Linked DNA regions of Homo sapiens. The protein of the gene in region 2 purifies or fractionates together with the protein of the main gene of each other region. This does not show direct contact. Each region holds a gene or a part of one and is shown on either strand. Other genes may lie near its edges.

The links.
Region 1: the proteins of RALY (region 2) and NR5A1 purify together in Homo sapiens (co-immunoprecipitation; one study listed by IntAct). This does not show direct contact.
Region 3: the proteins of RALY (region 2) and SCAF1 purify together in Homo sapiens (affinity purification with mass spectrometry; one large-scale study listed by BioGRID and IntAct). This does not show direct contact.
Region 4: the proteins of RALY (region 2) and CCP110 purify together in Homo sapiens (co-immunoprecipitation; one large-scale study listed by IntAct). This does not show direct contact.
Region 5: the proteins of RALY (region 2) and ACOX3 purify together in Homo sapiens (affinity purification with mass spectrometry; one large-scale study listed by BioGRID and IntAct). This does not show direct contact.
Region 6: the proteins of RALY (region 2) and KMT5A purify together in Homo sapiens (affinity purification with mass spectrometry; one large-scale study listed by BioGRID and IntAct). This does not show direct contact.
Region 7: the proteins of RALY (region 2) and FAM120A purify together in Homo sapiens (affinity purification with mass spectrometry; one large-scale study listed by BioGRID and IntAct). This does not show direct contact.

What each region holds. Positions count from the first base shown.
Region 1 is NC_000009.12:124,489,920-124,494,353, forward strand, and holds part of NR5A1 (steroidogenic factor 1), read right to left. Parts: intron 3,231-4,434; coding exon 3,111-3,230; intron 1,310-3,110; coding exon 1,162-1,309; intron 1-1,161. UniProt on the Homo sapiens protein: Transcriptional activator. Essential for sexual differentiation and formation of the primary steroidogenic tissues. Binds to the Ad4 site found in the promoter region of steroidogenic P450 genes such as CYP11A, CYP11B and CYP21B.
Region 2 is NC_000020.11:34,083,031-34,086,201, forward strand, and holds the end of RALY (RNA-binding protein Raly), read left to right. Parts: 3' UTR 1-1,854; downstream 1,855-3,171. UniProt on the Homo sapiens protein: RNA-binding protein that acts as a transcriptional cofactor for cholesterol biosynthetic genes in the liver. Binds the lipid-responsive non-coding RNA LeXis and is required for LeXis-mediated effect on cholesterogenesis.
Region 3 is NC_000019.10:49,655,231-49,659,631, reverse strand, and holds the end of SCAF1 (splicing factor, arginine/serine-rich 19), read right to left. Parts: intron 1,872-4,401; coding exon 1,743-1,871; intron 1,425-1,742; coding exon 1,233-1,424; 3' UTR 990-1,232; downstream 1-989. Other genes in the region: IRF3 (interferon regulatory factor 3), read left to right, coding at 1-43.
Region 4 is NC_000016.10:19,536,799-19,541,232, reverse strand, and holds part of CCP110 (centriolar coiled-coil protein of 110 kDa), read right to left. Parts: coding exon 3,646-4,434; intron 577-3,645; coding exon 446-576; intron 1-445.
Region 5 is NC_000004.12:8,391,872-8,396,305, forward strand, and holds part of ACOX3 (peroxisomal acyl-coenzyme A oxidase 3), read right to left. Parts: intron 2,872-4,434; coding exon 2,749-2,871; intron 583-2,748; coding exon 462-582; intron 1-461. UniProt on the Homo sapiens protein: Oxidizes the CoA-esters of 2-methyl-branched fatty acids.
Region 6 is NC_000012.12:123,400,591-123,405,024, reverse strand, and holds part of KMT5A (N-lysine methyltransferase KMT5A), read right to left. Parts: intron 1,453-4,434; coding exon 1,393-1,452; intron 387-1,392; exon of another isoform or gene 274-386; intron 142-273; coding exon 1-141. UniProt on the Homo sapiens protein: Protein-lysine N-methyltransferase that monomethylates both histones and non-histone proteins. Specifically monomethylates 'Lys-20' of histone H4 (H4K20me1).
Region 7 is NC_000009.12:93,513,554-93,517,987, reverse strand, and holds part of FAM120A (constitutive coactivator of PPAR-gamma-like protein 1), read right to left. Parts: intron 2,322-4,434; coding exon 2,221-2,321; intron 2,006-2,220; coding exon 1,719-2,005; intron 1-1,718. UniProt on the Homo sapiens protein: Component of the oxidative stress-induced survival signaling. May regulate the activation of SRC family protein kinases. May act as a scaffolding protein enabling SRC family protein kinases to phosphorylate and activate PI3-kinase.

The DNA.
Region 1 (4,434 bases), on a different chromosome or scaffold from region 2:
AATCCCACCCAAGCACTGGGCTTCCCACTTTTCGTTAATCCCCTCTGCCTCCACAACACTCCCCACTCCCCACTCCTCCCTCTCTCTGGCAGGCATGCCCCTCGCAGACTGTGACTATAATGCCAGCCACCAAGACAATACCTTAATCCTGCCCCCTCTCCAGGTGATGAAGCACTCACTCATCTCTATCCCATCCCACCTGCATCACTGCAAAATAATTCATTCCCCCAGAAAACTCCTACTCATCCTCCAAAACCCTGCTCAGATGCCCCTCTTCCAGGAAGCCTTCCAGAAAGAGCTCTGCTCCCCACCCAGGGTTCCCTAAGCCACACCCATCTCTCTGTCTCAGCCCTAACCACCCAGGCTGTAGGTCTTTTCACGATTGGCAAGGGACAGCTATGTCCTCAGCATCTCTGGGCATGGGGAGGGCATTTGTGATGGCTTTCCAGGGAGTGAGGGTGCAGACTGGAGTGGCCCAGGCAGGGTTGGGGTCAGGAGGGCAACGGGAAGGAGACCCCCCAAGTGCTTGGGGAGTGAGGTGGGTGGCCGGGCTGGGCTGGGCCAGGCCTGCTCTCTGCCTCTCCTCTGCTTTCTTTTCCTCCTTAGCACTGGTCACAACCTTCCTGGCTATGCCTGCCTAATCGTGTTAGGAACCTACGTCTTACTAATCATATTATGCTCATGATCTGTCTCCCCTAGAGAAGGTCAGTACCACAAGGGCTGGGCTTGGGGGGTTTTTGCTCACAGCGGTATTCCCAGTGCCTTCTCCAGTGCAATTTCTCGGTGCCTGTTTGTAGAGTCAATGAATGGATGCACGTGTGCATGAGCAAAGGGGTCCAGGCCCCCAGGAGGTACAGTCAAAATTGGGGCCCCCTAGATCCAGGGATTAGAGAAAACAGGGACCCCAGGATGGGAGCCTGGAATAAAAATCCTAAAGTCACATGGGCCACCAGAGCGGGAGCAGCCCCCATTTAAGAGCCAGGCCCTGGCCGGGGGCCCTCAGACCTTTGTTCACTGAATGAGTAAGGGAGGGGTCCTTTCTCCCCGAGGCTCCTTCGTGGCCACTCTGGCCACAGCAGGGCTACCTCTCCAGCCTCACCCACCCTCCCACCCACCCGCCTCTGGCTGTCTCCACCTCTCTGTCACTGGAGCTGCACTCACCCAGGCTGAAGAGGATGATGAACTTGAGGCAGACAAACTCCTGCCGGTCCAGCTGCAGCGCAAGCAGCTGCAGCACCAGCTCCTGCGCCCGCAACACCAGGCTGTGCAGCAGCGAGCCCGCCTGGGTGGCCACTGTGGTCAGCTCCACCTGGGGGCAGAGGGCACGGGGCGGGGGACAGTCAGAGGACGTGGGTCCGGGCAGGTGGCTCTCTGATGGGGGATGCAGGGCTGAGGGCATGGATTGGAGGTGCAGGTCAGATGGGCTGGCGTCAGGAGGGCCCAGCCTTGGTGCCGAGCCAGGCACGGGTAACATCTGCACAGCCCCGGGGACGCTGCCGGGCCCACCCTTCCGAGCTCTCCTCAACCCGCCAAGCCCGGAGCTGAGGCACCCACGTTCTGCCCGCGTCCACCCCTCCTTCACACACAAACCCCAGCACCAGGCCCAGCAGCACCAGCAGCTCAGGGGGCCCCTCTACATGCTGGGAGGGGAGGGGTTGGGGAGGGCAGGCCTGTGTGGGGACACACAGACACATCCACATGGCTTCCCAGAGCCCCCATGTTCACACCTACACGCTGGGTCACAGCTCAGCTCAGAGTCACACACACACACACACGAGCACAGTCATGGGGTCGCCCACTCTGTGAAGTGAAGGCACACACGTGTGCACACGGCCACACCCGCCCTTGTACGCTCACACTCACGGCAACACATACACCCATGTATGTGATCACATTTACGGGTTGATGGGAAGACAGTGACACCCACACACTGATGTGTGTGGAGATTTTGCACAATAAAACACAGGCAGGCACACACACACACACACACAAACAGGCATTCCCATGGCCACAGAGACTCAGCCAGCCTGCGGACACCCACACTTCATGCAGACTGCAGGCACCTGCGCTCACAGGGAGCCCCAAAGACACCCCCCTGGGACCAGTGCTGCCCGTCCCGTCCTCCTGCCCCGATGGCCTGTGACACCGAGGAGAGAGCTGGAGATGAGCAGTGGGGGCCTGGGAGGGCTGGAGCTGGGAGCAGAGTCTGTCTTCCCCACCCCACAGCACCCACCGACCCCACGGCCCTTCCTGTGTCCCCACCTGAGAGTGGCACTCCTGCCAGCAGGCTGGACCCTGGCCATCAACCCCCTTCTCTGCCTCCCCCCCTCCCTCTCTTTCCCTACAGCCCATCTCTCCAGGTGAGTCTTCCTCCGTGGCTGTGCCCCCGTGTCCCCACCCTGGCCCCCCACCTCCCATCCTGACCCCTCCGCCTGCCTCCTCAGATACCACCTGGCCATGTCCCTCCTCCTCCTAAAGCTCTCCCCGGACCCCTGCTGCATCTGGACTTTCTACTCCCCAGATCCTCATTCCCTGCTCTAAGGGGGCCCAAATTCCGACTCTGAGCTCTCTGGAGCCCTTTGCCCATTCATTCATTCATTCATTCATTCGAGATTTAGGGCCTGCAAGGTTTGCCTGCTAAGCCAGCACTAGCAACCCCCTAGCCTCCCTCATCTCTCACCTCATGCCACCCCCACACCGGCACCAGCAGGGCCCGGGGGCTCCACACTTCCACCCTCTCTGAGCCTGCGGTAGACGTGGGGACTGCCCCCCTCATCCCTCATTCCCCAGCCAACTCCAGTGTGTTATTTCCAGACCCAGGGCCACCATCACCTCCTCCTCCATGAGCCTCTCCTCACCATGCCCACACCCCCTGAGCTGCTCCCCAAGAGCAGGGCTCCCAGGGGCCGGCGCCTCTCAAGCCTGGGCCAGGGCTGCTCACAGAGGGTTTGGGCCAGTGGGTGTTCCATGAACGTGGGGAAAGGGCTGATAATTAGGGTGCCCAGAGCCAGCCCCGAGAGGCCTGGGTCCTCCTCTCCGGGGCCCTGAATCCTGGAAGTGCACAGCGGGGCCAGGGCGGGGCCCAGGGGCGGGGCCGAGGGACTGGTCACCTCCTGCCCGGTGACCAGCAGGATGCTGCCCTCCTTGCCGTGCTGGACCTGGCGGTAGATGTGGTCGAACACCAGCAGCTCGCTCCAGCAGTTCTGCAGCAGCGTCATCTGGTCGGCCACCTGGAAGGAAGAGGCACGCGGGGGGCCGGGCTCCAGCCAGGGTCCAGGGACCTTCCTCTCACCCCTTCTCCTCCCACTGAGACCCAACTAGGCGTGCAGCCTGGGCAAGCTAACCTCTCTGTGCCCATCTACCCAGATGTCTAGGCTATCAAAGTGCAACAGAGGTCTGGCCAGTTAACAAAGGGATGTTTGGGGGTTGAATGGGCCAGGCTTCAGGCCCCACCTCTGTCTTTTGTATGACTTTACGTAAGTCCTGGTAACCTTTCTGTGCCTCAGTTTTCTCATCTGTAAAGTGGGCAAAGTACTGAGCGGACAGTCCAGTACATGTTAGGTATGCCATACATGTTAGTGACTAATGTCCATGCAGGTGCTCTGCAAAGGACTCCTACAAATGCCTGGCAAGGTTATTATTAATTTTAACCTTGTCCACATTTAAAAGCCTGTGGTCGGTCACACCTCTGGCAGCCCCAACTGCTCAAACAGGAGCCATGAGGGAGAAACCAAGGGCTTCCCCCCCGGGCCTACGCAGAGCTCTCAGGCTCAGGAGGAGGAGGGAGGTCCCACCTGGCCTGAGGTCAGGCCCAGGGCATGAGCAGGGGGGCGGCAATGGCCTGGCACATGAAGCAGAAACGAACAGCAACAAGGGGCTGATTCCGAATGCCCAGGCTGCGGCCAGAGACACTCGGTGCAGGGGCAGGGCCAGCCCCTGTTTGGAGTGTCCTTTGACTCTGCAGGACTCAGAAGCAGAGCCAGGGATCCCCTGGCCCCAATCCCTATTTTTCAGCTGAGGAATCCGCCACCCGGAAAGGGCAAGAGACTCTCCCGGGATCACACAGAGGCAGGGCCAGGCCAGGGCCACGGCTGGCATTCCCGGTCCACAATCTCCACTGTGACAAAACGAGCCCTTCTGGGTATTTGGAAGCACACTGGGCACTGCAGATGGGCCTGGGCAGACACAGCCCCATCCCTCTCAGCCCGTGCCACTCACCAGCTGGCCACCATCGACCCAAAAGACACTTCTGGCGCACCTTCCTGGGCCGTGCCCTATGGCAAATGCAAACCATGACAGCTGACAGTCATTCCACTGCAGCCCTACAGCCCTGCGAGTTTCGTATAGTCGCCACCCACATGATAGAGAGAAGAAACTGAACAGAGAGGCCACACAGCTCTGTCTAGTTCCAGATTTGCGCTCTTAACCACTAGG
Region 2 (3,171 bases):
GTCTTTTTCCTTACCAGGTCTCAGTTTCCTCAGCTGTAAAATGAGAGGTTGATCTGGATCAGGGATAGTAAATGGGCCTTTGTTCAGTTACTGACTGTTGTATAACAAACCACCCCCAAATTTAGTAGCCTTAATAAACATTTATTAGCTCCTGAGTGAGTGGCTTGGCAGTTTGGGCTGTGTTCAGTGTGGTGGTTCTTATCTCATCTGGGCCCTCGTGTGGCTGAAGTGAGCTGGCAGATCAGCTGGGGACTGGCTGGTCTCAGATGGCCTCGCCCGCCTGTCAGGTGGTTGGCTGGGCAACTGGGCCACACGTTCCAGCATCTAGCAGGCTGACCCAGGATTCTAGACATCATGGCTGAGTTCCAAAAACCGCAAGAGAAGACAAGCCCAGTATGCGAGTGCTCTTGAGGATATTGCTATGACGTATCTTTTGGCCAAAGTAAGTCACATGGCTAAGCCCAAATTCTTCTTAACAGGAGGAGCTTCAAAATATGGCCATATTTAAAAAATCTACCTCAGGACTCATTTCACTTGCCAACTCAGAACTTTTAGTAGCAGCTGCCTGGAGTGCCTTTTGAGGATCTGCAGCAATTTTCAGACTGTTTGGAAATACTGACATGATAGTTTGGCAGTTTCTCTTATGAGCATGGAATTCAAGTGTGGGCACGTGAGCGTCAGGTATTTGCCATCCCTGGCCAGGTTGACCCGTAAGGTCATAACCTGCCCCATAGGATGTTATATGCAGTAGGCCTGTCTGACAAGACCACAGAAATAGAGAAGGCAAAGCAGAGCAAAAGATTCTGAGCCAGGCATCCTTGGTTTTCATCCCAACCAGATCATTGATTGATTGAGGTTTTAGGCAAATCAAAATCCCTCCACCAGTAGCCAGATTCTTCATAATAAACTTCCTCCATAACAGTAAACCATTTCCTGAACACCTGCTGTTAAAAAGCACATTTTACATTTACTTAATCTCCACAACCACCCTCAGTAGGTGTAGTAAGGACTTCTGGTTACAAGTTACAGAAACTGAATTCAGTCCTGCTTAGTGGGAGGAAGTTTATTGGCTCACAAATTGTAAAGTCCAGGGATCTTCAGACATGGGGACTTGGGTTCAAAAGCTGCCATCGAGAATCCGGTTAGCCAGGCATGGTGACACGTGCCTGTAGTCCCCGCTACTTGGGGGACTACAGTGGGAGATCATTTGCACCTAGGAGGTTAATGCTGCGGTGAGCCATGATCCTGCCGCTGCACTCCAGCCTGGGTGACAAAGCGAGACCCCAACTCAAGGGGAAAAAATCTGGTTTTCGGGCAGGTTCCAAGAAGTGGTAGAGCATGGCCATAGGGCCTGTGAGAATAGAGGGACAGAGGGGAGAATCCCCAAAAGGAGAGCAAGGCTTGGCTAACAAAAACAGGCATCCACTGTGTGGTTATGTCTATTCTATAGATTTTGTAGATGAGGTTTAAAAGCATGGCCCCAAGTAAAGGTGGCATCTCTATCCTATCCTCGCCTTTATCTAAACTCTGTGACCGATCAATAGCATATGATGGTGGTGGTGCTCTGCCAGTCTCCCAGTCCCAGACTGAAGCACTAGCAGCTTCCACTTATTATCTCTTGGGACTCTAGCTCTTGGGACCCAACCACCATGCTGTGAAGCAGCCCAGGCCACACAGAGAGGCCACGTGTACATGTTCAGCTGACAGCAGTATCAAATGTCAGACATGAGAGAGGAAGGCTTCAAGATGACTCCAGCCCAGCCACCGTCTGAGAACAAAGTAAGAACTGCCTCACTGATGCCATTCAAAGCCCAGCACCATGAGAGATAATAAAACGTTGTTTGAAGATGCTAACTTTTGGAGTGATTTGTTGTATCAGTAGATAACCAGGACACAGGCCCACAGAGGTTCAGTAGCTTGCTGTGCTTCTCAGGGGGCTAGGTTAAGAGTATAGGTTTTGTTGCTGGGCGCGGTGGCTCACGCCTGTAATCCCAACACTTTGGGAGGCCAAGGCGGGCAGATCACGAGGTCAGGAGACCGAGACCATCCTGGCTAACACGGCGAAACCCCGTCTCTACTAAAAATACAAAAAAATTAGCCGGGTGTGGTGGCGGGCGCTTGTAGTCCCAGCTACTTGGGAGGCTGAGGCAGGAGAATGGTGTGAAGCTGGGAGGTGGAGCTTGCAGTGAGCCAAGATCGCGCCACTGCACTCCAGCCTGGGCGACAGAGCAAGACTCCGTCTCTTGCTGACTCTTACCCATATGCCTGCATCTGTCTACCCTCTTTTCTATGTACTTGCTCCCTGGATGACTTCATCCGTGGCTTCAGACTCCACTCATGGCTCCATAATCTTCACCTCTAACTCATTTTCCTCCCAAGAACACCAGGGGAGTAGGTACAGATGCCCATCTAATAACTGTACTTCGATGTCCACAAGGACCTGTCCAGCCCCCACTTGCCCGTGTCAACCTCCTCCACTGCTCCATTAATTTTTCCCTCTGTGTTAATTTTTCCCTGGTTATCTTAGGTCCTTTCTGTGTCTTAATTGGACTTTTGCAGTAACCTCTAACTAGGCTCCCTGCTGCTCTTCCTACTCGGCTATCCGTTTTATCACCATCCCATTGGGTAAGATCCACACCCCTTAGCATGACATCCTAAGATGTCCAAGATATGACTGACCCCTTCTCAACACCTCCCCTCCCGTAATCTGCCTCCTCCATGTCTCAAGCCACGTGGAATAAATTGTGGAAAGACCTGTGCTGTCTGGCTTGTGCCTTTACACATGCTGTTATCTCTACCTCAAATGCTGTCTTCCCCCACTGGCTAACCCTTGTTATCCTTTATAACAGCTCAGAAGTTGCCTGCTCAAAGACACTTTCTTGGCCTGAATTAGAACTGCCCTCTCACGTGCTACTTCCATCACAGATCTTACCATCTATTATATTATTACATACACACACACACACACACACACACATAAAATGTATTTTGAGATCAGGGTCTCACCCAGGTTGGAATGCAGTGGCACAATCTCTCGGCTCACTGCAACCTCTGTCTCCCAGGCTCAAGCAGTCCTCCCACCCCAGCCTCCTGAGTAGCTGAGACAACAGGCATGTGCCACCATACCTGCCTAATTTTTTTGTATTTTTGGTACAGATGGGGTTTCACCAT
Region 3 (4,401 bases), on a different chromosome or scaffold from region 2:
GTGTGCCTCCAACCCCCCTGTTCCCCACCACCTCAACCAATAAACTGGTTCCTGCTATGATCACTTGTGCGTGTCTGGTGTTGGGTGCCCTCTGACCCAATATGGTTGTTATTCCCGCTCAGGGTCTCAGTTTACCCATCTGTGCAGCTATATACAACTCAGGTGCTCAATGCATGAAGACCAAGCACTGCAGGGGGCAGCTGACACCTCCTCACTTCTGCCCAGGGACCTGGTGGGTGATGGCTGTCCCCGTGTTGTAGACCAAGACACAGGCTGGGAGAGGCGCAAAGGTCACAGAGTAGGAAACACAAAGACTAGCCAGAACCCAGGCCCCCTGCCTTGCCTATGAACAGTTTGGGCAAGTGGTCCTTCTCCTTCCAGGCCTCAGGCTCCCCTCCACGTGGGGCTGGAGGGGTCTTGGTAAAGGGGCTCTGCGGCCACCCTGGAGCCTGCAAAGCCTGCCTGCCTGGTGACCCTGGGCACTGTCACCTCTCCTGGTTGGGCCGCAGTTCTGGGTGATGAAACTGGCAGAAGCCAGCGCAGCCCTGACTCACCCTTCGGCCCTTGCTGCTCTGTGCCTCAGTTTCCCTCTCAGGACAGTTGATGAGATCACCCCAGCTTCACGGGGCTGCTGAAAAGAGAAGCCAACTCAATGGGGAACACAGATCCTGCTCTGGGAGCAATTCCAAGGCAGGCACATGGCACCCAGGAGCCGAGCTGGGAAGATGCTGATCAGGTGGGGTCCGGCCCCTGCCTCCCTGTGAGCAGCTCGCTCCCAGCCAGAGACTGTGCTAAGTGCTCCACCTGTGTCTTGTTCAATCATCACAACACCCACTACACAGATAAGAAAACTGAGGCCCAGGGGAGGCAGCTGCCCCAAGTCACAGTCTGGTCTCTGTCTCCCATCCTCAGCCTCCTGGGGGTCCCTCCCCAACCCTCTGGCAAATTTGTCTCCGAAAACAAAGGGTTAGAACCATGGGGCTCAGGGGTAATGTTTCATGAAATCTTTAATGAAATTGGGGAGAGGGGCACAAACAGAAGGGAGGGGCACTGGGGACAGGCTTGGGGGCAAGGGAGGTGGACACGGGGCAGGGCAGGGCAGGGGGCTCTCCTCTTCCCTGCAGCAACCCTCCCCCAGTCATCCCACTGACGGGGGAGGGAGGTGGGGAGGTGGAGCCATAAATACGTCCAGAGTTTCAAAGAGGTGAGGGGCGAAGAGCTGGCCAGGGCTCTCAGAGAGGGGGCAGGGGCAGGCCCGGGCCACCCTTGTCTGGGGGCCCTGGCTCCTTGGGCGGCCGTGGGGGCCCTGGGGGGTCCCCTGGCTTGCGACCGTGCTTGCGGAAGTAGCGGTAGCGCTGGACGTAGGCCCGCACCAGGTTGCTCACCTTCACTGGGTTGATTTCCCCACTTTTGCTGTGGCAGATCTGGGGGGCCGGGGACAGTTGGAGTCACCACCAGGCTCCCGGGGCCCCATCCACCCAGGACTGTTGGGCGCAGCTTGGAACTGCGGTAGGAGGAGCTTCCCCAATAACCAGGCCAAAGTCCCTCTGTCCCCCTAGACGATGGGTGCCCCAGGGCCAGCGGAACAGGCCCAGGTGGCCTTGAGAAAATCCTGTCACCCTCCTCACCTCCCAGACTGACCTCCTCCCCGTCTCCCATCCGCGTCCATCTGTCTGCACACATCTGTCCCTCCAGCTCGTTCTCTCCCCGGCCTGTGTCTGCCCCTCTCTCCGGGTGCCCACCTTGTGGACGGCCTTCCTCAGGATGTCCTTGTACTCCTCCTTGGTGATGTCCTTCTTCTGATAGTATGGCTTGATGGCCAGCTTCACCTCCTCCACCGCCCGCTCCTGCGTGTGCAGCTTCTTCAGATACTGGTGGGGTGGCGACAGCGGGGGAAGACACAGCAAGGGCCAGTGAGTACCTGCGGAACCTCCACCTCCACTCGCCTCTGCTGCCAGCCTAACCTCTCTGGCCGTCCAGCTGCTCTCAGGCTGGAAGTCCTGCTGAGGGTCTGTCCCATGCGCCCTCTGCTGCAGGTGCCCGGGACCAAAGGCCAGGCCTGGGCCTCTGCATGTCACTGAACATCTCCTCCAGGCCGAACCCTGGGCTGCTCCAGGCCTGGCCGGGACCAGGACATGTGTGTCGCCTGCCCTCACAAAGTTCAGTCTGATGAGAAGACAGGCATTGGCCAAGAAATTGCAGCTGGTTTTGAATCAGACTCTAGAGGCGGGGCTGTAGAAAACTGCACAGGGCTTTTCACCGCGGGAGCGGGGAGGACTCAGTTTAGGTTTTTACAGTACTGCTCTGGTCACCCAGGGGATGGAGGGGGTGGCTAGGGGTGAGGGGCACTGGGGAGTGGGGGTGGGGACTGACCTTGAGCCCATTTGTATCAGAAGCCTGGTCTGCCACTCCCTGTCTCTGACCCCTGGGATGCTCAGCCAAACCTTTTTGTGGCTCCTTTTTTGTTTCTTTGTTTTTGAGACAGGGTCTCTCATTGTCATGCAGGCTGGAGTGCAGTGGCACAATCACTGCTCACTGTACCCCTGGTCTCCTGGGCTAAAGCGATCTTCCCACCTCAGCCTCCTGAATAGCTGGGACTAGATGTGCCACCCCCACGCCTGGCTAATTCTTGTACTTTTTGTGGCGACTAGGTCTCACTATGTTGCCCAAGCTGATCTTGAACTCCTGGGCTCAAGCGATTCACCCGCCTCGGCCTTGCGAAGTGTTGGAATTACAGGCATGAGCCACCGTGCCTGGCCACCTTTGTGGCTCATTTGTAAAACGGGGACAGCACCTATGGGCAGTACTACAGCGACACACATGGAGGACATGGCACAGGCTGGGTACAGAGCAAAGACTCAATCCAGGGGAGCTGTGCCTGTTCCAAGGGGGATGGCCATGGGATGAAAAGGGGAGGACGCAACAGGGACAGGGCAGAGAGCCTCCGAGGCAAGGCTCTTCCCGCCTGTGGCCAGCAAGCTAGGAGATCCCGCAGCCGCAGGCTCGGGGCAGCAGCTGCAGCCCTGGCCTCAGGCAGAATCCTTGCAAAAGCAGACAGGAAACCTCTAGCCAGAGAGCCACGTGGGACCAGAGAAGAACAGGCCTTCTGCAGGCACAAGGGACAGTCCCTTGGCACCACCCTTGGAGAAGCTGCCCTCCCAAGCCAGGTGACTATCAAAGTAGGGGCAGGTAAACTGAGTCCTGGGAAGGGCAGGGCACAATGGCTAGCCGACTCCAGGAGCAACATCAGTGACACTGTCTGACGAGCTACTGAGCTGTTAGGGAACTCTGTGGCCAGAAGAGACACAGGCTGCCCTGGAGGGACTTCTCAGGCTTGCCTGGCCCCACAGGATGTGGGTCTCTAGAGAGACGCTGCTCCCCAACACCCATCTCGGATGGGCAAAGCGGGGCAAAGGGCAGAGCACAGACCAGGGCAGAGCAAGGGCCACTGTAGACCAGGGGGTCCTCACCGTCCGAGTCCTGCAGCGCAAGGCACAAGCTACGGACAAGTGACCGACTAAACTGCAGCCCCGCCTCTGCGGCTCACACAGGATGTTTAATGGGGTTTATACAGCTTTATCTGGCACGGTACACAGCTGTGTAAGGGTGGCCAACGTCACCGTCTGGCTATGGGCTACTAGACTGTAAGAAAACACATCTAGGCTGGGTGCAGTGGCTCATGCCTATAATCCCAGCACTTTGGGAGGCTGAGGTGGGAGAATCACTTGAGCTCAGGAATTTGAGACCAGCCTGGGCAACATAGTGAGACCCCAACTCTACAAAAAATTAAGAAATGAGCTGGGCATGGTGGCGCGTGCCTGTAGTCCTAGCTACACAGGATGCTGACGTAGGAGGATCCCTTGAGCCCGAGAGATCAAGGCTGAGGCTACAGTGAGCTGTGACTGTGCCACTGCATGCCAGCTTGGGTGACAAAGCGAGACCCTGTCTCAAAAACCAACCAACCAAGGCCGGGCACGGTGGCTCACACCTGTAATCCCTGCACTTTGGGAGGCCGAGGCTGGCAGATCACCTGAGGTCAGGAGTCAAGACCAGCCTGGCCAACGTGGTGAAATGCCGTCTCTACTAAAAATACAAAAATTAGCTGGGTGTGGTGGCGGGTGCCTGTCATCCCAGCTACTCGGGAGGCTGAGGTAGGAGAATCACTTGAACCCTGGAGGCGGAGGCTGCAGTGAGCCGAGATGGCACCATTGCACTCCAGACCAGGTGACAGAGCAAGACTCCATCTCAAAGAAAAACAAAAACAAAAACCCACATCTAGACCTGACCAAGAGAGAAACAGCTCCAGAGCCCAGGAGTAGGAGCCGGCCAGAGCAGCTGAGTAAGAACCTACATTACTGTCTGCCTGGCACCCATTCTCCCCTGCTTCATCTACAAACAGGT
Region 4 (4,434 bases), on a different chromosome or scaffold from region 2:
GGAGTGCAGTGGCTAGACAAAGGCGAAATCATAGCTCACTGCAGCCTTGAATTTCTGGGCTCAAGCAATCCTCCCACCTCAGCCTCCTGCATAGCTGGGACTACAGGCTCATGATACCACGCCCAGCATGAGTGTCATTTTTATGATACAACTCCTGCAGAATGTGTACTTTAGCACCTATTTATAAAATACCTTTTTAAAATATTAAGCTTTAAATCAAGGATTCAATAAAATATTCTCGATAAATTATGCAATTACTTTTAGATAAGGATCTAAATATCAAAATTCATATTTTGACAAAAAATACCATTCACGTATCAAAATGACTCCCTTACCTTAAGATATATGGAGGCAAAAATTACACGTATTCTATACATGACCAAAATTCATAGGTATCCTTGGCTAAATTTCACTTACCAGTTGTATCTCCCTCCACATTCCTCACCTTTTGCAGTCTTTCTTGTTCCCTTTCCTGCTCAGCTATGAGTAGTGATAATTGCTGGGCGTGCTGTTCTTCTAGTCTCTTCCGCATTTCTTCAAAAGCTAACATCTTGCTTTTTAGTAACTCCTCGCTTTCTGAAAAGAAACATGTTTCCTCAATTTAGAAAATTCACAAGTCTAATGTCTGATATTTTATACCATCAATTTAAATTATCCTTCTGACAAGAGAGTATTCCTGGATCTGACATAATACAATCAAGATATAGCTGGGTCTCTACTTCGAACCACACTCCTTTTATTTCATGCTACTCAATAAAGTAAGACCTGTATTGCATCACCTTTACCCACTCATTCAACAGATCCCATCCTGATCTGAAATGACAGACCCAGGACTATATATTCAGACAAGATTCTCCTGACTCTACTTAACTTTCAGATGTGGTCCTCAACTGCATCCTACCATCATTTGTTTTTTTGACACTTGTCCTCCAGGATCTCTGGTAGTGTAGCTTGTAGTTTTGCCTTGTTTTGATTTTCAAAGAAAGTGTTTCCTTGATGGTATAAAGCTTTCTCAGCTTGAGGTTTCAAAAAGGACTGGACGTTAAAATTCCAGATATTTAGTTACTAACTAAGAGAAAACATTATGACAATACAAGCTTCCTAAATAGAATGTGGTAAGACATGTTGAAATGTACAAATACCAAGTATGGGCCAGGTGTGGTGGCTCACGTCTGTAATCCCAGTACTTTGGGAGGCCAAGGCAGGTGGATCACTTGAGGTCAGGAGTTCGAGACCAGCATGACCAACATGGTGAAACCGAATCTCTACTGAAAAAATACAAGCGCATGCCTGTAATCTCAGCTACTTGGGAGGCTGAAGCAGGAGAATCGCTTGAACCTGGGAGGCGGAGGTTGCAGTGAGCTGAGATCGCACCATTGCACTCCAGCCTGGGCAACAAGAGTGAAACTCCATCTCAAAAAAAAAAAAAAGAAATTTCCACTCTGTTGGTCTTATGTACTTCTGATATTCACTGAGGCAGCCTCTTGCCTTGCTATGCTATCTACTTGGAGGATCCAAGTTGGCTCCCCAGGTAACAGTGGTTGTTTTTATTAGAGCTCTTATAAAGTTGCACAGGATGGGCCAGGGCTGGTGGCTCAAACCTGTAATCCCAGCACTTTGGGAGGCCAAGGAGGGCTGATCACCTGAGCCTAGGAGTTCGAGACCAGCCTGGCCAACATGGTGAAACCCTGTCTCCACAAAAAATATAACAGCTGGGCGTGGTGGCGCATGCCTGTAAATCTCAGCTACTTGGAAGGCTGAGGCAGGAGAATCGCTTGAACCCAGGCCTACAGTGAACTGAGATCGCACCACAGCAATCTAGCCTGGGTGACGGAGCAAGACCCTGTCTCAAAAAAAAAAAATTAAAAAAAAAAAAAGTTGCACAGGTTTTAAGCAGTCTGACCCAACCCTGTATTTCCCATAAGCCCTAAGAGCTTAACTTACTTGATTTGTATGTCTTCTATATCAGTAATAAAGAATTATCAACAATGACAACAAAGTAAGGGGTAATGAAGGAGAAAAACGTGCTTTAATAAATTGCTGTTAATGGATACAACAGAAAAAACTGAAATAATAATTTTTATTAATTAAGAACCTTTATTATTATTATTTTTTTTTTTTGAGATGGAATCTGGCTCTGTCACCCAGGCTGGAGTGCAATGGTGCAATCTCGGCTCACTGCAACCTCCGCCTCCTGGGTTCATCCAATTCTCCTGCCTCAGCCTCCCAAGTAGCTGGGATTAAAGATGTGCACCACTACGCCCAGCTAATTTTTGTATTTTTAGTAGAGACGGGGTTTCGCCATGTTTGTCAGTTTGGTCTCGAACTCCTGACCTCAAGTGATCCACCCACCTCGGCCTCCCAAAGTGCTGGGATTACAGGCGTAAGCAACCGCGCCGGCCTAAAGAACCGTTCTTGAACCACCTACTCAGAGCCTTATTTCTGATACTTTGTCTAATAATTTGATGTTAAAGTGTTTACTGAAGGACCAATTACACGAAGCTCATACTACAAATGAAAAAGCAAACTGAAATAAACATTAGAAACTATAGTCCAAAAGAAAGACCTCATAGCAATACAGTGAATTAAAACTGTAAGTGATGTTTCAGGCAAGACTGTTTGGGGCTGGGTGCGGTGGCTCATGCCTGTAATTCCAGCACTTTGGGAGGCTGAGGCGGGTGGATCGCTTGAGGCCAGGAGCTTGAGAGCAGCCTGGCCAACATGGCAAAACCACATCTCTACTAAAAATATAAAAATTAGCTGGGCCAGGTGGTAAGCACCTGTAATCCCAGCTACTCTGGAGGCTGAGGCACGAAAATCAATTGAACCCAGGAAGCAGAGGTTGCAGTGAGGTGAGAACCCGCCACTGCACTCCAGCCTGGCGACAGAGCAAGACTGTCTCAAAAAAAAAAAAAAAAAAAAAAAAAAAAGAACTGTTTCCTCCAATTATTAATATTCTCAATAATACCAAGTGGACTATGAAAGCTTCATCATTTAAATAAGAAGATCCATCCAGGCATGATGGCTCACGCCTGTAATCCCAGCTACTCAGGACGCTGAGGCATGAGAATTGCCTGAACCGGGAGGTGGAGGTTGCAGTTAGCCAAGGTTGTGCCACTGCACTCCAGCCTGGGCAACAGTGCCAGACTGTCTCAAAAAAGAAAATCCTGGCTGGGTGTCGTGGCTCACGCCTGTAATCCCACAGCTTTGGGAGGCTGAGACGGGAGGCTCACTCAAGCTCATGAGTTTGAGACCAGCTTGGGCAACATGCCAGAAACTCCATCTCTACAGTACAAAAAATACAAAAATTAGCCGGGCATGGTGGCATGAGCCTGTAGTCCCAGCTACTTGGGAGGATGAGGTGGGAGGATGGCTTGAGCCCAGGAGGCGGAGGTTGTAGTGAGCTGAAGTCATGCCACTTCACTCCAAACTGGGGTGATAGAGCCAGACCTTGTCTCAAGAAAATCTTTAAGAAAGCCTATCAAATGGCAATAAACTGTAGCTGACTAATATGCTTTCTAATAAGATAAATAAAATTAAGTGCCCATATGAATAAAGACCACTTTTTTCCCAAAAATGTCAATTAAGAGTATTAAAATAAAGGTATCTGCATAGAAGGTATCAAACGCTTCAAAGATTCCTTACCTTTGGAACTAGTTCCTAACATTTTATTCTTGTTAACGAAGCCAGATCCCTTAGGGTATCTTTTTTCTGGCAAATGTTGCCTTTCTTGTTCAGTTATTCCACTTGTTATGACATAAGGGCAGTTTTCTTTTTGCAAACCATCAATATCTAAATCAAGTCTCCGTTTAACTTTCTCAAAACTGTTATCCAAAAATTGTTCATTTCCACAGGACACCATAGGTGTGTCCATCTGCTGTCTCGTATTCTGGTTTTGCATCAATAAAGGAGAAGGGTTTTTTACATCATAAGACTTATTCAGTTCTGTTTGCAAACTGCAGTTTTTCTCTAACATACTGGCTGGCTTGAGTCCACTCACAGTTCCAAAGTTTGGACTTGCTATACACTGACTGCTGGCATATGGTTCATGCAGCTTTGGCATCGCAGCACAGGTACTGTTCATTATGTGTGCGCCTCTCTCATCGGATGTTAACTGACCTTCCACAGTAACAAGTCCATGAGTAACTTTATTTTCTAAATGATTTCCTGAAGATTGACATACCTGATTTGATTTACCTAAAACCACATCTTCTTTGACTTCAGATGTATTTTTGCCCACATAAACCTTGCTTGAACAAACTCCCGCTAAATCAGTTGGTAACTTTGGCATAATTTCGGGCACATTTGTGTTTTCATCAGTATCTTGAATAATTAAGTCCATTGCCTGTTCTTTTCCTTTAGGGCTTAATTCACAGGCATTTATTGGGTTATTTATAAGTATATGACACGCTGATGATGTCCTGGAACGTCTTC
Region 5 (4,434 bases), on a different chromosome or scaffold from region 2:
TCTTTATCTAAGTGTAAGAATTTTCTATTCAAACAAAACATGGTGCTAGTTTACTACCAAGCTGTTAACCAAATAGTTAAAATTCAAATGAGCAGATCAGCTGCTCTCTGCCTATATTTTGGCCAAGAAGCATCAGGCATCTGAAAGCAGTGGGATCTATCTAGGGCAGGGGTTGGCAAACTTGTTCTGCAATGGACCAGAGAGTAAATATTTTCAGCTCTGTAAGCCACATGGTCTCTGTCACAGCTGCGATTACTCATCTCTGCCCTTGCAGTGCGAAAACAGCTGCAGGAAATGTGCAAATGAACGGGGGTGGCTGGCTGTGTTCCAATAAAACTTTATTTGCAAAAACAGGTGGCAGGCTGGATTTGGTCCTCAGGCCGCAGTCTGCCGACCCCTGGTCTAGAGTCAAACAGCAGGGCTAAGGACAGGAAACCACCATGCGCTTCTCCAAAACCTACTGGCCAGATAGCCGTGTCCTCCACACGCCTCCCGGCATTCCTGAATTCCTTGCTGGGTGGTCCACGAGGCCAGGGGCTTGCTGGCCGATGCCAGGGCGTGGATCTCACGTCCAAGCTCTGCCTTTGGGTGAGGGAATCCAACAAGAACAGGTGAAAAGAGACTTTAGACACCAAAAAGTCATAAGTCAGCAATAGCATCAAACCACCATATCACCTCTAGTCTAATACAAGACATCCCGAAAATGACAGAAGAGGAAACCTAATTGTAATTAGAAATAAAAAAGGGTCTTTATCCAAGTATGGATACACTGTGGTACGCTCATACCATTTCACAACAATGAAAACACAGCTCTACACAGCAAATAGCTCTCAGGGCCCTAACACGGGTCCCAGAAGCAAACTGCAGAAGAATGTGCGTCATGGCCCACTTTATATAAAGTTCACAAACGTCAAAGTGAATGACACACCATGGAAGGTTGCAATTGTTTGCAGCGAAACCATGAAGAAAGGCCAGGGAACCAGACTCAGCACCGCAGACAGTGCTCGCTCCCAGGACAGGGAAGGGCCGGGACCAGTCCATTCCCAGAAGGCTGCAAGCGCCTCGGTAACTGATGGTCTGCTCTGTGTGGGGGCTCACCGTGCCTCCCTCAGGCCTAACATGTTTTATTGAGACTCCTTTGCTGTCCATGGCCAAACTACCCTGAATGAGCCTGATCTCGTGAAGCTAAGCAGGGTCGGGCGTGGTTAGTATTTGGATGGGAGACCGCCTGGGAATAGCAGGTGCTGCAGGCTTTTTTTTAAGGGGAAAAAAAAAAGAAAGAAGACTCCTTTGCTTCTGCTTGATATCTAATGATGAAAACTTAAGAGGCTGGGCCAGGCACAGTGGCTCACGCCTATAATGCCAGCACTTTGAGAGGCCGAGGCGGGCAGATCAGTTGAGCTCAGGAGTCTGAGAACAGCCTGGGCAACATGGTGACACCCTGTCTCTACTGAAAAATAAAAAAAATTAGCCAGGTGTGGTGGCGGGCACCTGTAGTCCCAGCTAGTCTGGGAGGCTGAGGCAAGAGAATTGCTTGAACCCAGGAGGCAGAAATTGCAGTGAGCCAAGATCGCACCACTGCACTCCAGCCTGGGCAACAGAGCGAGACTCCGTCTCAAAAACAAACAAACAAACAAACAAACAAAAACTTAAGAGACTGATTCAGAGTAAAAGAAGAATTTTTAATTTTAAAAAAGAAAGACAATTAAAAAGGAAAAACAATTAAGAGGAAGACACACACACGCACACACACACACACACACACGCACACACACACACACACACACACGCATGCTAAGTCCAGTGACCCATTTTATGAGTGTTTTCAACTTCACATAAGGGGCTGAGCTGAGGCCCTCCTCTGCCTGGGTTAAACCACTGAGTTTCAGAAAGAATCAGCCTGGTCACCCTTTACAACATTATTCACAGGAGAACAATGCAAGTGTCAGCTGGCAAAAGCTCCACTGACTCACGCTCCAGGGAAAACACAGGCTTAACCCCTTTAGTGGTCAGAAGCGCTCCCTCCTCAGGCCTCCAGGCCTGGGGTTTGCTCTGCCATCAATCCTGCAGGTCATCCCTTCGCCATCATCTGCCGTGAATGTGGACACCGATAATATTTCAAGATATGCTAATTAGATACAGGCTTTTTCTGATGTTGTACATAACAGCAATCTGTGGCGTTTCTCCTCTGCTTTCAAACACGGTTATTTCTTTTGATTCACATTTCACTCTTGCTCAGGAGGCAGCAGGAGGGACAATGGAAAATCAGTTCATAATCATCTACAAAGAAATCCGTTCCCGATGTCTCTTTATGCCGAGGCTGATCTCGGGATTTGCACGCTCGTTTCTGGCACAAATCCTCTGACTGTCAACTCAAATCCAGTCAGTGGGATTCAGACCTTTGTGCAGCTGTTTACAAAAGGCTCAGAACCATGAAATCCACTGAGGGGCGGGTAACGTGGATTTTGCAAAACCGTCATGTTCTCAAAAGGAGACCAACAGCTGAACTCACAGACTGGAACCGGGAGTCGTGTCAGCACATCCTTGAGAGGCAGGGGTGTGGACGCGTGCCCAGCCCGTTCAATCGCGGCAGAGGCCAAGAGCTCCGAGTGGGTGGGAACAACTGGAGGAATGCTCTGTCCTCGCAAATCAAAGGACTGATTTTGCTTTGAAATGAAGGTTGAATCTATGCTGCTCCAACCGTGTGAGATTTAAACGATGCTGCTGAGGAAGCAGACACCACCTCACCTGTCTGGCGCTGCGGTCTCCCGATGCAAGTCCTCGCTGGAGCTCCACCAGGTCCAGGAAGAGCGACTTGGAGAAATGGTCTAAGGCGTAGACAGCTGCCAGATATGGAAGCAAGCGCCATTGCTAGAACAGACAAGACACCTGCGTGAACACATCGTGGTTCCCATGAAGGGCAGCCCATCCCAGGGACCATGAAAGCCAGTGCAGGGAGAGGCCGTCAGGGCCACACACCCACTAGCGCTGAAGGTCTTCACATGTCTTCCCGGCACATCAGAAAGCCTTCACCCTGACACGCTCTCAACTCAGCCAGTTCGGCTTTCACCCATAGCCCTTGACAGACAAGCTCAAACGCAATTCGCTAAATGGCCGCTATTCACAGCTGTCCCATCAAAGTCACTACAGAACAAAGTGCCAGTCTATCTGTGAATTAAGAAGGCAGCACTGCTAGGGGCCAACTCCCCGGCACACGGACTGACTGGCTGACAGCATGAGCCTGTGAGGATGAGGCCGTCACCCTGGGACAGATGGGAAAGCTGAGGCCCACACAGAGCTGGCAGCCCCTCGAAAGGCTGAGTGCATGTCTTTTTCACTTTGTCTGAAACAGGATAGGGTCCACCTATTGTTGGATGGGGGGGTGGGTGGGTGGGTGGATGGATGCATGGATGGTGGGTGGTGGGTAGGTGGATGTGTGGGTGGGTGGATGGATGAATCCGTAGATGGGTAGATGGATGGGTGGGTGGATGCGTGGACAGGTGGGGGGATGCGTGGACAGGTGGGGGGATGCATGGATGGGTGGGTGGGTGGCTGGGTACATGGCAGGACAAGCCTGAGAGGATCCTGAGGAAACCGCCATCACCACCATGGTCTAACGTGTCAAGAGTGCTGAGCAGACATGGCGCCAGCTGCCTCCATGCCCTAACTTTGTTAATCCTCACACTGATCCTAGGAAGAAGTTTTATCATCAGTTCTAACTTACAAATGATAAAGCAAGAGCACAGAAAGGCTAAGGACCTTGCCTGGGGGCACACAGCCAGCTGGGGGTGGACCTTGGTGGTAAGGCCAGGCATGGTGGCCCCAGTGCGCTCTCTTGACCGCCGAGCTGCCCTTGGCACCCAGAGTGCTGTGACCACACACGGGAGGGGATGGGTGCCACACAGGCATGAATGGCAACACTTACTAAACAGGCTCATAGCCCTGGTCAAAGGATGTGGACAGAAACAACTGCAATTCTGTTACAATTTCCTGGAAGTTTCACCCAAATCTACCTTTATTCATGCACAGCTTGGCCTGGGACCTGGGCCTGAGTTAGCCTGTGCACTTTAACTGGATTTCTTATTTGATCCTCAGTTCTCTCACCTGTAAAGTGGGACTAAGCCCAACCCTCTTAGCTGTGAAGACCAAACCCAGAGCACAGGGCACGTTCGCTGTGACAGTTCATCCCCCTTCCATGTAACAATGTCTGTGCTTTTCCACGCTGCTGCCTGGGCTGCATCTGTGCATGTCAACAGCTGCCCCATCTCTGGGGACGTGTAGGGCCAACGCTCTGTGCCCACGCCACTGTTCTAAATGCCATCACAGTGAACAGGGCTGCACGCTCAGCTGCTGCTTCTTCCAGATCACCTGCCAGGAATCATTTCTTAGGGATGGGATGAAAGTGTCAAAGAGTGTGCACAGGGCGTGCAAGGC
Region 6 (4,434 bases), on a different chromosome or scaffold from region 2:
AGGGTCCTGTGCGTACAGAGCCTCCCGTTTCTTGGCGTCGGTGATCTCGATGAGGTCCCCGTGGTATTCCACCACAAAGTCACCCCGGGAGAACTGCTTGGTGGCAATCACACCCCTGCCTTTGCCATCGATGAGGTCAATCTGTCAGGTGATAAGAGAGGGTGTTGGTTCATAATAGCAATGGATGCCACTGTGCACAGCAGGTCTCCGGGGAGCTGGGGCTTACCCCAGTCTTTAACAGCTGTACTGAGCCATGTCATAAAATTCACTCACTTTACATGTACAGGCTGATGGGTTTTATGAAGTGTATACAGCTGTGCAACCGTCACTACAGGCCAGCTCTAGAACGTTCCCTCACTCCACAAACGTGGTTCCTTGGTGCTCATCTGCAAAGCAGTTACATCAGAGCTCGTGAGAGATCTGCTAGGTGGAGACTGCCCCATTTTGTAGATGAGGAAACTGAGGCTTAAAGAGGCACAACCACGTGTCTGAGGCCACACAGCTAGACAGTGACACAGCTCAAATCCACACACCTGGTTTCTCTGTCTAGGGGCTATGCGCTATGCCTTCCTAGGCAAACAGCAGGCCCAGTGTTCTGGGTCTCTACCTCATTCCACGATTTCTCTCCTGTGTCTCCTCACTCTATTCTACATGGAGTTGAATGGGGTTGCTGGAGGGGCCCAGGACTTAAGCCGGAATCCCCCTAGGTGGTGGGTGGAAGTGGAAGCTTTCTGAACCCGGAGCCCTAGTCTAGGCCCATCTGAACCCCACTGTAGAGAGTACTTCTCCTCTCGCCCAAACTGAGTGTGGTTGAAATACAGTAAGAGAAAAGCACATTTCTTGGGCATTGTCATTATCTAGGAAAACAGTTTAAAAATGTATTAGTTTCTCCTTTTAAAAGTTTCCCTGGGCATCAGCTACATATTGTATAATCCGATTTATATGAAGTGCCCAGAAGAGCAACTCCACTGAGACAGAAAGCAGCTGAGTGGCTGCCAGGGGCTGGGCAGGGGAGAGGTGGGGATGGTGGGCAGTGGTAAGTAATGGGTAAGGGTTTCCATTTGGGAGGATGAAAAAATTCTGAAATTAGACAGGGATAATGGTTGCATTGCATTGTGAATGTACAAAAAGCCACTGAATTGTTTAACCACAATTTCTAAGAAAAGCTTCCCCTGGATAACATTTATATACAAAGCCCATTTATGTTTCCTTCATAAGACATTTCCTTAACAACTTTTGGTATTTGGCTCTTTGACAACCTAATAGAGTCTGCCTGGTCACCATGGCCATTAGAGGGTGAAAGCCACATGGTGGCCACTCTCAGCCACGGGACCAGGGAAGGTGAGCTCTTCCAGCTTTAGCTATGATGCAGCAAGCACAGCAGCCCCTTACCTTCATTCCTTCTTCCTTCCCACTTTCAATCAATTCATCTATTCTTTTCCTTTCTTCAGACTGGGCAGAGAGAAAGAAAAACAGCATCAGTATCTTCTCCTAGGCCCATCGTGCGTAGCTTGATGGTCTTGAGCCCTGATTGCCCAGGCCATGCCCACCGGGCCACAATCGGCCTCATTTGGCATCACTGGGGATGATGGGTCCCCAGTGATGGCAAAGCCCCCAAGTATCCCTCCTTTTCTCATCACCCATCTGTTGTGGAAGATCTGTCACCTGGGGTTCAACTGGATCAGGAGGGAAACAGTGGGGACCCAAGAACAGAATGGGGCTCGTAGATATGTTCTGTTGCCCATGCAGCACGTTAAAAAATGTCCAACTTGCCCACACCTGAAAATCAGGCCTCTGACTTCACAGAAAATCAGGTACAGTGGGCCAGGCGCGGTGGCTCACGCCTGTAATCGCAACACTTCGGGAGGCCGAGGCGGGCGGATCGTAAGGTCACGAGTTCGAGACCAGCCTGGCAAATAGGTAAAACCCTGTCTCTATTAAAGATACAAAAATTAGCCAGGTGTGGTAGGAGCCTGTAGTCCCAGCTACTCGGGAGGCTGAGGCAGGAGAATCGCTTGAACCTGGGAGGTGGAGGTTGCAGTGAGCCAAGATTGTGCTACTGCACTCCAGCCTGGGCGACACAGCAAGACTCCACCTTAAAAAGAAAAAAGAAAATCGGGTACAGCAGATCAGAGGCTGTGCCCTTTGGATGGGACACACGCAGTCCACATGGCTCTGGTCTGATGGCTCATACTTCTGTTTGGGATCGCTGAGATTCACCTGTATGGAGGCCACCACGATGGATGAGAAGAGGGCCTCCAATCCCGAGGGTCAATACAGACCTGAACAGAGAACTGGGAGGGGGCACCCCTGGATCCACCTCTCCTCTAAGGCCACCCCTCCTGCACCTACCTCCATCCCTAACCCTGGGTTCTACTGCTCTGCCACTGCACAGATACTACAGAGCAAAAGGGAACCAAATGAAGACAGATCGGAAGCTCCAAACCAGTGTGGCTCACCCCAAACCAGCATGTCTTGACGGCATAGACTTTCACCAAACCAGATGGCACGTGTCAGGAGCCTGACACCAACTGCTGAGCTCAGCCCATTCCCCCTACACAGAGGCCCAAACCAGCTTGCAGCTTTTCCAGGCACTCAATCCACACCTGCAATGTGCCAGGCGCTGCAGTCTGTGCTGGGAACAATGGTGAATGAGTAACCTCAAGGACAGTCCCAAATCCTGCCACCTCCTCTCCATCTCCATTCCCACTGCGGCCCTGCAGCCCAGCCACGGCCCCGGCCCCGCTCCGGCCCCCTTGCTAGTCACCAGGCTTTCACTCTGACCCCAGGGAACACTCAGTTCTCCACAAGGTAGCCAGAGGGGTCTTTTAAAATGTAAATGAGGCCAGGGGCAGTGGCTCTCTCCTGTAATCCCAACACTTCAGGAAAGCCAGGAGGAAGGATCGCTTAAGGACAGGAGTTAGAGACCAGCCTAAGCAACAGATCCAGACCCTGTCCCTACAAAAAATAAATAAGCTAGGTGTGGTGGCGTACACCTTTGGTCCCAGCTACTCTAGAGGCTGAGGAAGGAGGAGGATTGCTGGAGCCCAGGAGGTTGAGGCTGCAGTGAGTCATGACTGTGACACTGCACTCCTGCCTGGGCAACAGAGTGAGACCCTGTCTTAAAAAAAAACAGAAAACATGACCAGGCATGGTGGCTCACGTCTGTCATCCCAGCACTTTGGGAGGCTGAGGTGGGTGGATCACTTGAGGTTACGAGTTTGAGACCAGCCTGGCCAACATGGCGAAACCCCGTCTCTACTAAAAACACAAAAATTAGCTGGGCGTGGTGGCACACACCTGTAATCCCGGCTACTCAGGAGGCTGAGGCAGGAGAATCGCTTGAACCCAGGAGGTGGAGTTTGCAGTAGGCCAAGATCGCACCACTGCACTCCAGCCTGGGAGACAGAGCAAGACTCCATCTCAAAAAGAAACAAAAAACAAAAAAAAACCTTCCCATAAACTTATTTAATAGTAATATACCTAACAAAACCTCACATATCAATATTAACCTTAAACATAAATGGACTAAAATGTTCCACTTAAAAGATATGAAAGATAAGGGTCAAGAAGGTTAAAAAAAAAAGAAAGATATACACCTGTTATCCCAGCACTTTGGGAGGCCGAGGCGGGCGGATCACGAAGTCAGGAGATCGAGACCATCCTGGCTAACATGGTGAAACCCCATCTCTACTAAAAATACAAAAAATTAGCCGGGCATGGTGGTGGGCACCTGTAGTCCCAGCTACTCGGGAGGCTGAGGCAGGAGAATGGTGTGAGCCCGGGAGGCGGAGCTTGCAGTGAGCCAAGATCGCGCCACTGCACTCCAGCCTTGGCAACAGAGCAAGACTCCATCTCAAAAAAAAAAAAAAAAAAAAAAGAAAGATATATATTGGTGGAATAGATTTAAAAAAAACAACAACAAAACTTGGTCAGGTACAGTGGCTCATGCCTGTAATCCCAGCAGTTTGGGAGGCCAAGGCAGGTGGATCACCTGAGGTCAGGAGTTCGAGACCAGCCTGGCCAACATGACGAAACCCTGTCTCTACTAAAAATACAAAAATCAGCCGGGCATAGTGGTGCACACTTGTAATCCAAGCTACTTGGGAGTCTCAGGCCAGGAGGCGGAGGTTAGTAAGCCATAATCATGCCACTGTACTCCAGCCTGGGCAACAGAGTGAGACCTTGTCTCAAAACAAAAAACAAAAAACAAAAAAAAAACTTCAACCAACAGTAATATACCAATGTTGGTTGTTACTTAGCTGTGACAAATTCACCAGAGTAACTTAAGTGAGAGAAGATGGGTAAGGAGTCTGGGGAACTCTCTGTATTATCTTTGCAACTTTTCTATAAAATTAAAATTATTGGCCAGGCGCGGTGGCTCACATCTGTAATCCTAGCACTTTGGGAGGCCAAGGTGGGCGGATCACAAGG
Region 7 (4,434 bases), on a different chromosome or scaffold from region 2:
AGACAATAAGCACTTGGAGAGGTCAGATGCCCAGAGCTCCAAAAAGCTGACCAGAACCTTCACAGACAGGTAGGAAGTGCATACCCAGAAAAGACAGGACATGCTCAGGCAGTCCTACTCACTCCAAGTTCAGCTCATCCTAACAAAGACAACTTGCCAAATTAGATGGGCAACTCACATTCTTCTCAATCCCTCCCCACCGGAGGAACAAGCACCTCAACTGAAACATGCCCCAGTCACCACCCACGTCCCCAAGTCAGCACCTTGACCTGGTTTCCACATCTCCATCACTAGCATGGAACTCTTGTTGGGGTCATAAAGCTTACTTCTTTTGCTTTTTGTCTTACTTCTTACCTATGTTTCACAGTTTAGAAAGAACATTTCTTACTAAGACAAAAACTGTATTGTACAGACACTTGGACCTTGCTGACATGAGTCACGTTTTACAACAAAATGCACATGCCTTAGAAATCTGGCACATAAGGGCTTCCAAGACCATCAAGCAGTTGTTCTCAAACTTCAGTGTGCTAAAGACTGACTGAGGTGCTTATTTAAAATGCAAATTTGGGGGCCCCAACCAGAGATTCTGATTCAATGGGTACTCAATATATTATCTTGCTAGAGGTTAATTTAAAAATTTGAATATTCAATTGCAACTCTTTACTTCATTTTAGAGTCTTGGCATTGCATATACAGCAAATAAACATTTATTAATTTTATACTTCTCTGCACATACAACAAATCAACATTTATTAATGTTATACTTCTCTGCTATAAACAGGGTATGCATCCCTGGATGGCAGAGAGTCCTTCAGTAAGCTCTGCCCTGGGTCAACAGACATTTATTCCCATTTCACAGATGGACAGAGGACAGAGAGGAAAAGATCACCTGCTTCAGGTGACACACAAGGTAAGAACTGGCATGGAAGCTGACACCTATGTCTCTTACATTTCCTACATCAGAAACAGATGTAACATCAACCAGCCCTGGTTATCTGCGCTGTAAAGTAGAGTTCACACCAAGGAAAAGGAGACACTGACTTAAAGAAAAGAAATATTCTTTCCCTGTTTTTTTTGTTTTAAACATAAGACAATTTAAAGAAAGGGAGGAGTGCAAATTAAAGATTTCCTCGATCAAATTTTAACCAACTATGTATTTGTGAACCCATTTATTCAGGGACACACAGTGTTTAAAATACTCCTCTAAGGAAACAATTCCAGCCTGGGTCTAGGCAGCTTTCTAGGGTTTTGCTTGGGCAAACAGTGTTATTTCCAAAGTGTCCTGTAACCTGCTGAGTTTAGGAGAAGGAGAGGAAATTCAGAGCTCCCTTGATCCAGGAGCCAGAAGATTAATGTTTCGGGGGTCGGCAGGGGGTTGCTGTGACGGGTGTGAGTGGCACCACACCGGACAAATGCCCCCATGTTTTGGTCATCACACAAACCAGTTCTTGTCAAATTCCTCCCCAGAAAGTTTCCTGTGGCTCCAGGCCATGGGGCTGGGATAGTGCAGATTTTAAATCATGGAAACTTCAAGAACATACCTACTCTTCCTCTCTCCTCTCTGTCCAAGGAGCCCCCATCTGAGTACAGACTGACCATCACCCACCTGCAATAAACTACATCTCTGAGCAAAACACCAGCTGGGCTGGCAGGCCAGAAGGCAGCTTCCCCAGGTCACTACCCGCCAGGAAGCACCCAGCGACCCACGCACCACTCACTTTGTCGCCCCTCCGCTGCCCTCGTCGTTGTCGGAAGATGACGATGTAGAAGAGCCAGGGAAGTAGGCGGAATCCACGTGGTTGGGGCTGCCGCTCTGGGCCGGGTTGATGGGCGAGGACCGCTCATACAGCGGCGTGTGCTTCCCTTCGTGAGGAATGTTGCTGTAGCTGTTCTGCTCCGTCAGATTCTTCCCGCTCGTGTCCAAAGTGAGAGGTGCTGGCTCAGAGAGGCTGTACGGGTATGGACCCTGGCCCGGGGCGCCCCCTGGGCTGGGCACCTGTGGGGCCTGAAGCGAAGGGCACAGGTCACGCACACGTGGCCAGCAGGACCCGACTCAGGCCCAGGCTGACGTTTCCTGGCTCATTTTTATTTCAACAAACACTGGCATCTATTTCACGTATCAATTCAAGAGGTTAGGAACTTATTTTAGCATTCGTTGAAATTCAATGCACGCACCCTGTCTGAGACCCGCCACCCGACCCAACGCAGGGAAGGCCTTACCACGGGCTTTGCTTGCAGAGAGGTCTGCGGAATGTTGAGCATCTGAGGAGGAACATGCGGCGGCACCATCCCAGGCATTCCAAACGGACCGGGTCTGGCTGCTTCACCAACACAGAAAGAAAAGAATCACACAGCTGTGAACAGAATGCGTTTTCCAGGGCATCCTGGGGGCCAGCCCATGGCGCCAGGGATCTCACCCTCACCTGGCTCAGACATCGACACCACCATGGGTCCCACTTCTCAGAAATCATTACAAATTGCCATTTCACAGTAAGGAAAACTTAATTTTATGATGCTCCATTTGATGGACTCGGGCTGGGATTCTAACTTTCCAGATTTCTCAGTGAACTTGCCATAGTGGTTCTGCTCTCGTGTACTTCCTGAGGGCCTCGGCTGTCCCTCTGCCTGCAACTTGGTGGGGATTCTCTGTAACTCAGTCTCCCTGCTCAGGGCTGCTCCTAGCCTGAGGTCTCCGTGAAACCAGAAGCCCTGGCAGGCATGAAAGGAACAAAGTCGGACCGAACAGTTTCCTTTACCTTTGTCAAGCAAGAGGACTTTTCTATTTAAAGTACATTGCAACTACCATTAGGTTCTCAGCTAACTAGTGAGTTTTTAAATATAAAAGGAATTGCTTTTCATTGTTCAGCAATTAGGTTACACATTTTAACACATATACAGGATGAGTAATTTGTGATTCTGTGTTCTCTTAAAACATAATTTCATAAACCTGCCTGATGTGTGCTGCCATGTGCTAGTCATCATTCCCACGCTACCTTGCAAAAATGAAGAAATCTGTGAGAGGACTGAAAGCCACATAGAGGAATGGCTGAAGCAGGACAGCAGGACATGGAACCAGGCCAGCCTGAAGCTGGGACAGAAGGCAGGGGCTGGAAGCCTCCCCACTCAACCTCTGGCCTCGCGCGGCCTAACTAAGCACAGGAAGAGAGCTCAGGGGCCACGTCAGCCAACAGAAGTGAATGAGTGAGTAGATGGTGCCCATAAAGGGCTGTTCCAGAGACAGCACAAGACCCGCAGTAACAAGGACCGACTGGGGCCCAAATGATATGCAGGAAGCAGGAGGACATGGGACATGGACCTCTAGGAGCTGCACTCCCTCTCAGAACACTTAGGTGCTGAGGGCCTATGATGTGTCAAGCTGAGGACTGGGCCTGGGGATGAAAGGAGCCCTGAGGCGGTTTAAGTAAGATGCACACTGCTGAAGACACAGAGAAAATAGAAAACCTGTGTGAGACACAACAGATCCACCAGGGGCTTGCACGGCTGCACCATCTCTTCCTTGGGTTTGTTTTAAATGTGGAAGAAAACCAAGCCCAGAGCTTGCTGACTCCAATTTCCCTCTTTAAGCAGTAGATATGCTTCTACAACCTCTTCATCTGAACACCAGTTGATATGGTTAGGCTGCACATCCCCACCCAAATCTCATCTTGAATTATAATCCCCATAATCCCCACGTGTCTAGGCAGAGAGACTAGGTGGAGGTAATTGGATCATAGGGGCAGTTTCTCCCATGTTCTTCTAATGATAGTGAATGAGTTCTCACAAGATCTGATGGTTGTATAAGGGGCTCTTCCCCCTTCACTCGACACTTCTTACCGCTGCCTTGTTAAGAAGGTGCCTTGCTTCCCCTTCAACTTCTGCCATGATGCTAAGTTTCCTGAGGCCTCCCCAGCCATGCTGAACTGTGAGTCAATTAAACCTCTTTCCTTCATAAATTATCCAGTCTCAGGCAGTTCTTTATAGCAGTATGAAATCAGAGGAAAACACCAGGCAAGGGGAACACAACCCAAGAACCACCACCTCTCACACTGCCTACTGCCAATATAGGTAAGGACAGAAACATTCCCCAAACCTTCACTCTCGTTCTCTGAAAAGCAAATGTCCATGGCTGCATTCACAAGAGGTTCCCTAAGCCAACACTGGGCGTGGTGAGACCAGGAGTGCAAACGCTGTCCTTGGTCCGGCCTCCTGAGAGCCAAGCATGGTCAACAGACGCTGGGAGTGAAGCACAGATCATTGTTGACTCCCCCCAGAGAACGACCAGGAATCTTACAGACTACAATTTATCTGAGGTTCCTGCCTTCCAAGGGCCTTCAGCTCGCAAGCTTTAAACACCATAGCCCTTCGATCCTGGCTCGCATCAAGAAAAAACCTTGGCAGAGCTTCCACCTTTGTACCAAACAAAAACAACTGCAG